Regions from separate parts of the Homo sapiens genome. Here region 1 is reported to be linked to region 2. The links are microRNA targets in miRTarBase. Many come from high-throughput screens and were not tested one by one. Region 2 holds a microRNA gene; the other region holds the end of a gene's coding sequence.
What was found. The annotated mature microRNA hsa-miR-331-3p reads GCCCCUGGGCCUAUCCUAGAA and lies in region 2 at 1,335-1,355, opposite strand. An mRNA with a match to its seed (bases 2 to 7 or 8) in the 3' UTR can be bound and repressed. Matches are read on the target gene's strand: a 7mer-m8 pairs with bases 2 to 8, a 7mer-A1 pairs with bases 2 to 7 and ends in A, and an 8mer does both.

Region 1: the mRNA of CDKN3 is a reported target of hsa-miR-331-3p. The part of its 3' UTR that is shown has no 7-base or 8-base seed match.

The regions. Positions count from the first base shown.
Region 1 is chr14:54,419,840-54,423,452 of GRCh38, forward strand. CDKN3 (cyclin dependent kinase inhibitor 3) reads left to right here. Exons shown (of 8, transcript NM_005192.4): 8 at 153-379. The coding sequence ends at 239. Among named protein-coding and RNA genes, the nearest start is that of CNIH1, 20 kb to the right of the region's middle.
Region 2 is chr12:95,305,845-95,309,834 of GRCh38, reverse strand. MIR331 (microRNA 331) reads right to left here and starts at 1,415; the gene lies at 1,322-1,415.

The sequences.
Region 1 (3,613 bases), not on the chromosome of region 2:
ACTTCCCCATGATGCAAATGCTTCCTTACCCAAAAAGATGTAGAATTGTGCTTAGCAAGTATTTTTTTTTATTCCTGATACCTGCTAATATTGTGCCCACACTGATAACTAGTTTTCTACAGTGTATTCCAATGTATCTTTACTTTTTTCAGCAATACAATTATCTTCATGAGTTTCGGGACAAATTAGCTGCACATCTATCATCAAGAGATTCACAATCAAGATCTGTATCAAGATAAAGGAATTCAAATAGCATATATATGACCATGTCTGAAATGTCAGTTCTCTAGCATAATTTGTATTGAAATGAAACCACCAGTGTTATCAACTTGAATGTAAATGTACATGTGCAGATATTCCTAAAGTTTTATTGACAAAACTCGTTGTGTCTCTTTCATTTCTTATAGGAATAGGAAAATTGGGATAGGAAAATTGGTATGCAATTTTCCTTTTAGAAATGAATTGGTTGTTCTGGTATATTCTACCTGGAGGTAATGCTGAAAACATGCATTTGGAAAAATATTTGAATGCCTATTTTTAATACTTAGTACTGCACTTTTACTTCATTTTACTGTTTGTAACCACTGGGTAGCATATGACAAAGTAGTAAGTATGAGAATTGGTATGAGTGCCCAAACTTACTTTTAAATGATGTCCCCCTCCCTCTCTATTCCTCCCAAAACTTCTTCCGCTTTTTACTTCATAGACCTCCGGAATTGAAAAGGATCCTGTGAGTCTTCCACTCGCCCCCTCCCAGTACTGGATCAGCCCCAAGGGTGTTTATTCACTATGGGCTGGAACATTTTCAGAGACAAGGAATTCACTGGTTCAGACAGCTGCTCCACCTTTTGTCCGCCCTAGGAACTACACGGAATGAGCTTAATCCTTTCACATTTATTTCATAAAGAATTTAGCTACAGATTAACAATTTCCAACTCTCTCACTCTTTCACTTCCCCCTATACTATGAAACCTATCTTTTTTCATCTTTAAATTCAACTTTGAGTTACCCAAAACAGTCATTTGGGCTGTAGACAAGGATCACACACAATGTGTCAAACAAACACACTTGTTTTAACAGTCAGTGGTTTCAGTAGGGCTTACAGTAGTCACATGGCTCTCTTGGCTACTGGTAATTACAAGTGTGAACCAATGGCAATTTGGCAATGACCACCAGGTTGCAGACTCATAGGCACTTCCACAAAAGACAAAGTTTCACTACATCAAAATTTCATTTTTAAATAATTATTCAATGACTGGCTGGGCGTCATGGCTCACGCCTGTAATCCCAGCACATTGGGAGACCAAGGTGAGCAAATCACTTTAGGTCAGGGGTTTGAGACCAGCCTGGCCAACATGACGAAACCCCATCTCTACTAAAAATACAAAAATTAGCCAGGCGTGGTGGTGCACGCCTGTAATCCCAGCTACTTGGGAGGCTGAAGTAGGAGAATCACTTGAACCCGGCGGGGCAGAGGTTGCAGTCAGCCGAACCCAGGGGACAGAGGTTGCAGTGAGCCGAGATCACACCACTGCACTCCAGCCTGGACGACAGAGAGACTCTGTCTCAAAAAAAAAAAAAATCATACAATGACTAAACATCTTATTTTGTCTCACACTACTCTTCTTGCTGCTGATTAACTGCTTGAATTTCATTACAAAATAATGCAAAACAATGACCAGCCTGTTTGGGAATTTCAGAGCACTAGTATGTATTGTAATATAAAATCAATATATTAATAGAGTCATCCCTTGTTATCCTCAGAGGATTGGTTACAGGACCCCCCACCCCACCCCCAACAGCAAAATAAATGGATGCTCAAGTCTCTGATATAAAATGGCATAGTATTTGTATACTTTAAATCATCTCTAGTTACTTATAATACCGAATACAATGTAAATGATGTGTAGTTATTATACTGTATTGGTTTTATTTGTAGTATTTATTTTTCAAATAGTTTTAATCTGAGGTTGAGTCAGCGGATTTAGAACCCATAGATACAGACGGCTGACTGTACTTTTATACATAACGCTGCTTCTAGAACTTAACATTTTATGAGGATACTAAGGAAGGTAGGAGGATCACATATCCCAGCAGTATCTAAATGGTTAACCTAGGGATTTCATTTTCTCATATAATTAATACCAAAAGTTATAGCAAGAAAAGTTTTTTTTTGTTGTTTTTTTTTTGAGATGGAGTCTCGCTCTGTCGCCCAGGCTGGAGTGCAGTGGCATGATCTCGGCTCACTGTAACCTCCGCCTCCTGGGTTCAAGCGATTCTCCTTCCTCTGTCTCCTGAGTACTGGGACTACAGGCGCGTACCACCATGCCTGGCTAATTTTTTGTATTTTTAGTAGAGGCAGGGTTTCACCGTGTTAGTCAGAATGGTCTCAATCTCCTGACGTCGTGATCTGCCCGCCTAGGCCTCCCAAAGTGCTGGGATTACAGGCGTGGGCACCCGTGCCCGGCCCAAGGAAGGCATGTTTTTTAAGTACACACTGTAATAACAGATTGGCCTTCTTCATGATTTTTGTATTATAACCATACACAATTTAAAAATCACAATTTCTATTAAACTTTAGACAGTCATTGATATTTACATTAGCCAATCTTTTACAGTCCCCAATCTACAATGGTTCAACTTGGGATTTCTCAACTTTACAATGCTATGAAAGAAATATGTATTCAGTAGAAACTATAGTTCAAGTATTCACACAACCATTCTGTTTTCACTTTCAGTACAGTACAATGTTTGAGATATTCAACACCTTATTATAAAATAGGCTTTGTGTTAGATTATTTTGCCCAACTGTAGGCTGATGTAAATGTTATGAGTACGTTTAAGGTTGGCTAAGCTATGATGCTTGGTAGGTTAGGTGCATTAAATGCATTTGCAACTTACATTTTCAACTTATGATGTCCGGAGATAATTCCATTGCAAGTTGAGAAGCATATATATTATCATTCTCTCAACATAAATACATAACTTATTCATGAATACTTAGAAAATTGAGAGAAAATATTGGCATGGATTAATCAAATACTTTAATAATCAACTGAATTTTGAAAGTACTTGCATCTCTCAATTCCCACGGCAAGTGCTATTTAAGCCTCTACATTTAAAAAGCTTCAGTAGGCCAGGCGCAGTGGCTCATGCCTGTAATCCCAGCACTTATGGGAGGCTAAGGCAGGCAAATCGCTTGATCTCAGGAGTTCGAGACCAGCCTAGGCAACATGATGAAACCCTGTCTCTACTAAAAATACAAAAATTAACCAGGTGTGGTGGTATGCATCTGTGGTCCCAGCTACTTGGGAGGCTAAGGTTGGAGGATCACTTGAGCCCAGGGAGGTAGAGGCTACAGTGAGCCATGATAACACCAATGCACTCCAGCCTGGAAGACAGTGAGACCCTGTCTCAAAAAAAAATTTAAAAATTTTTTAAAATGCTCGACTAAACCACTTTAATATTAAGTATACGGGAAAACATCAACTATTCTATAACAAAGAAACATGAGATGTCAGTTACTAAAATATAATTGTCCAGTTAAAGATTCCAGCATTCCAGGGAAAAGTATTTTCTCTACCTAACCTGTGTGATATTCCCCAAAACAATG
Region 2 (3,990 bases):
ACAGTTTAACACTCAACTAAGTGTCTGGATTGAATGTAGACTTCAAAAACTTACTACGTAAACAAGCTATAACTTTTTAACTCTTCACAAATTCCTATTTTCAGTGTTCATAATGAACAAGGTTTAAAAAAGTGGAAAGGCTCCCAAAATACTGAGAACATATATGTATATAAATCAAGGATGGGTTCACTCATTTCAAGCTATGTCAAGAAGTCTATGGGATGAAGCATGTCTGTTGTGATGGATATAGTACAGAACTAACTCCACGGCTGAGTTCTTCAGAGTGAGCCTCTGTAGGCTCATAGTCCTATTTTAAAGGAATAACCTATTGACCCAATTTGCTGGTGTTATAAGCTTGGAGGAATAGCACAATTTCAAGTTCCTTTCACAGGTGGAGTTTCTGATTAGTCTGTGGTTATTTGAAACATGGTCTACACCTACTGCAGAAGCCAGCATTATTAAAAGCATACATTTTCATTGTGCACCATAACTTTTGGATTTGGGGTCGTTTCATACTTTTTCAGAAATACTGTCTTCTAAATTAAACAGAAAAACATCTATGTGAATATAGCGATGCAACAGTTGTGATATGAGACCATGTGATGGATCAACTAGGTCAGAATATTTGTAAAATCCAGAGTGGCAAGGAATAAAAATAGAGAAACTTACTAAAAATCTTCTACAAAATAGTGATGTAAAATGTGACGTATTAACCAATTTCTACTGTGTCATTCTAGCTTGTTTTCATTAACCATAGCAGAACTTCTAAAAGTGAGCTCTAAAATGTGGCAAATTTGATAATAAATTAAGGAAAAAGTCATTAGTCTCCAAAAACAAGAATTGAAAATCATTTGGCACTGAAGCCAGATGGCAAAGACTAAATGCTCTTCAGAAATTATGAACAATTATTCAGTTACATGAGACTGACATAACAGTGTCAAGTAGAAAAACATTTAAGAAAACAGAAACCATTAAATTTGGGGGAGAGTTTAATTTGGAGGAAGAAGTTGATTTTGGGGTTTTTTAGGGCTAAGTTGCTTCAGCTAAAAATATAGAACTGATAATAAACAAGAATAGCTCTCTTCACTGGCAATAATATCTGTATGGAATTTCTATTGCGAGAAATTACTATAATGCCAAAGGCTGGGAAGACTTTGTTACCCAATGTCATCCCTCTAATTTTAGAAGGATTAACCAACCAATTTTTGCTAAAATGTAGGCACACATACCAAAAAATGTGAATCTTGGTGAATATAGGATGTCTGGTAGGCCTCAGGTTATCTTCAGTCTTCACACTCTTGATGTTCCAGGAATGATGCGCGAGCTTAGGTTGGTTCTAGGATAGGCCCAGGGGCCTGGTTTGATCTGGGATCCCTGGGACCATACCTAGAACAAACCCAAACAAAACCAAACTCCTTGGGAGTGCTTTCAGCTCAGGTAGACTTCTGGGCTTTTCACCCATATGGACCTCCACGACTGTACCAGGACCATATACCAACCTTTAAGGGATGGGAGTGACATTTCTGGAGCCTTCTGTACGTTGTCAGCTGATAGTACTGTGCCTGAGTAAGCATTATTTAAGTCATGGTATGAACAGAAGGTAACAGATTGGTGCAATAAAAGTGCAGAAAATACTTTGATTTAGAAATGAAGTTAATTTCCTTAAGAATTTACTTAAGGAAGGGGAAAAGGATATGCTTTGTTTAGGATATTATAAAAGAGTAAACTTATAAAAGACATGCTTTAGTTTTAGAAAAATTCTTCAATAATATTCATTTGTAGGTAGCTAAGCTTTAGGAAATGATATAAAACTGAAAAACATAAAGCCTAAAACAGTAAAATTATCCTTTAAGAAAATCTTAGGATATAAATAGGAGAGGAAATATATATATCCATAGCCATATCTCACAGAATATACTGATTTTAAAGGATAATGCAGTCAAGAGAATATGCAGCTTAAATACTGTACTATTGCAATAATATGTTGCTAAATGAAGTTCAATACATAGAGATAAAACTAATTTCATTGCTGACAAGCTAAAATACATTAAAATATATACCATAAAAAATACTATATGCACTTTAATTTATCACACATTTCATTTTCCTTCTTTTTTTTTTTTTTTTTTTTTTTGAGACAGAGTTTCACTCTTGTTGCCCAGGCTGGAGTGCATTGGCACAATCTCGGCTCACCAAAACCTCCGACTCCCAGGTTCAAGCGATTCTCCTGCCTCAGCCTCCTGAGTAGCTGGGATTACAGGCATGAACCACCATATCCGGCTAATTTTGTATTTTTAGTAGAGACGGGGTTTCTCCATGTTGGTCAGGCGGTTCTTGAACTCCCGACCTCAGGTGATCCGCCCACCTGGGCCTCCCAAACTGCTGGGATTACAGGTGTGAACCACCACGCCCAGCCCATTTTCATTTATTTATTTTTGAGACAAGGTCTCTCGTTCTGTTGCCCAGGCTGGAGTGCAGTGGTGCAATCATGGCTCACTGCAGCTGTGGCCTCCTGGGCTCAAGTGATCCTCCTGCCTCAGCCTACTGAGCAGCTGGGACTACAGGTGTGTGCCACCACATCCAGCTAATTTTTAAGTTTTTCTGTAGAGACCAAGTCTTGCTGTTTCTTGCCTAAGCTGGTCTTGAACTCCTGGCCTCAAGAGATCCTCCTGCCTCAGCCTCTCAAAGTGCTAGGATTGTAGGTGTGAGCCACTACGTCCTAGCTTATCACACATTTTAGAATATCTATAAAATCAGTTCCTCCTTATTCATGCTAAACTTTTACATGTGTGAATCCTTGAATCAATTAATCCTCTTTTTGGTTTACAGCAATTACACTGAATAGAATCACTTTCCTCTCACAACTACACTCAGAAGTTTTCTTCTTTTATCACTGACCTGGCTTTGGTATCTTGACTATCTCTTCTATAATGGCAGTCTCAACTCAAGAAACTGGTTTGGACCACCTATCTTTTTTTTTTTTTTTTGAGATGAAGTCTTACTCTGTCACCCAGGCTGGAGTGCAATGGCGCAATCTCGGCTCACTGTAACCTCCGCCTCCCGGGTTCAAGTGATTCTCCTGCCTCAGCCTACTGAGTAGCTAGAATTATAGGCAGGTACCACCACCACGCCCGGCTAATTTTTGTATTTTTAGTAGAGACGGGGTTTCACCATGTTGGTCAGGCTGGTCTCGAACTCCTGACCTCGTGATCCACCTGCCTCGGCCTCCCAAAGTGCTGGGATTACAGGCGTGAGCCACCGCGCCCAGCCTGGACCACTTATCTTTTATGATTATTATACCACAGATCCCTTCCATTAGCATGGATAACTGAATGCCGACTATGAGGCATGGTCATAAAATAAACAGACTGATTTGACAGTTACTTTGTAATGAAAACATGAGTCAATATATGGTTACTAAAATAATCAGCATGTTGCTAAAAATAAGTTGTTTGATGCTAGGATATCCATTTCTATACAGATTTGACTTTTACTTGTAAATATTATAGTGTGCAAATTTTATTTTTCATTCAAGAGAGAAAAGTGATCCTGCTTAATTATTAAATATTAAATTACAATTTAATCATGCCCAGTACAGAATGACAGTGGGAATTTAGTCATTCAAATATCTGCCAATATCATTAGATCTAACACTGATAACTTTTGGTAAGCTTTTAACGTCCGCTTACTATAGCTGAATAAAAATAAAGACCCTGTTTTTAAAACTAGCATAATCAAAAAATAAATTCTTTGTGGTATAATTGCCTATAGTCTATAAATTTTATTACTTCTCAGGTCTCTGTGACATTAATAGTGAATGTTTTCTTATTTTTCAGGGCTTAATCTATTTTCATGTCTTGGAAATGAAGATACATTTCTCTCTTAAAAAAAAAAAAAAAAAAAAAAAAAAAGCCGGCTGGGCGCTGTGGCTCATGCCTGTAATCCCAGCACTTTGGGAGGCCAAGGACGGCAGATCACAAGGTCAGGAGA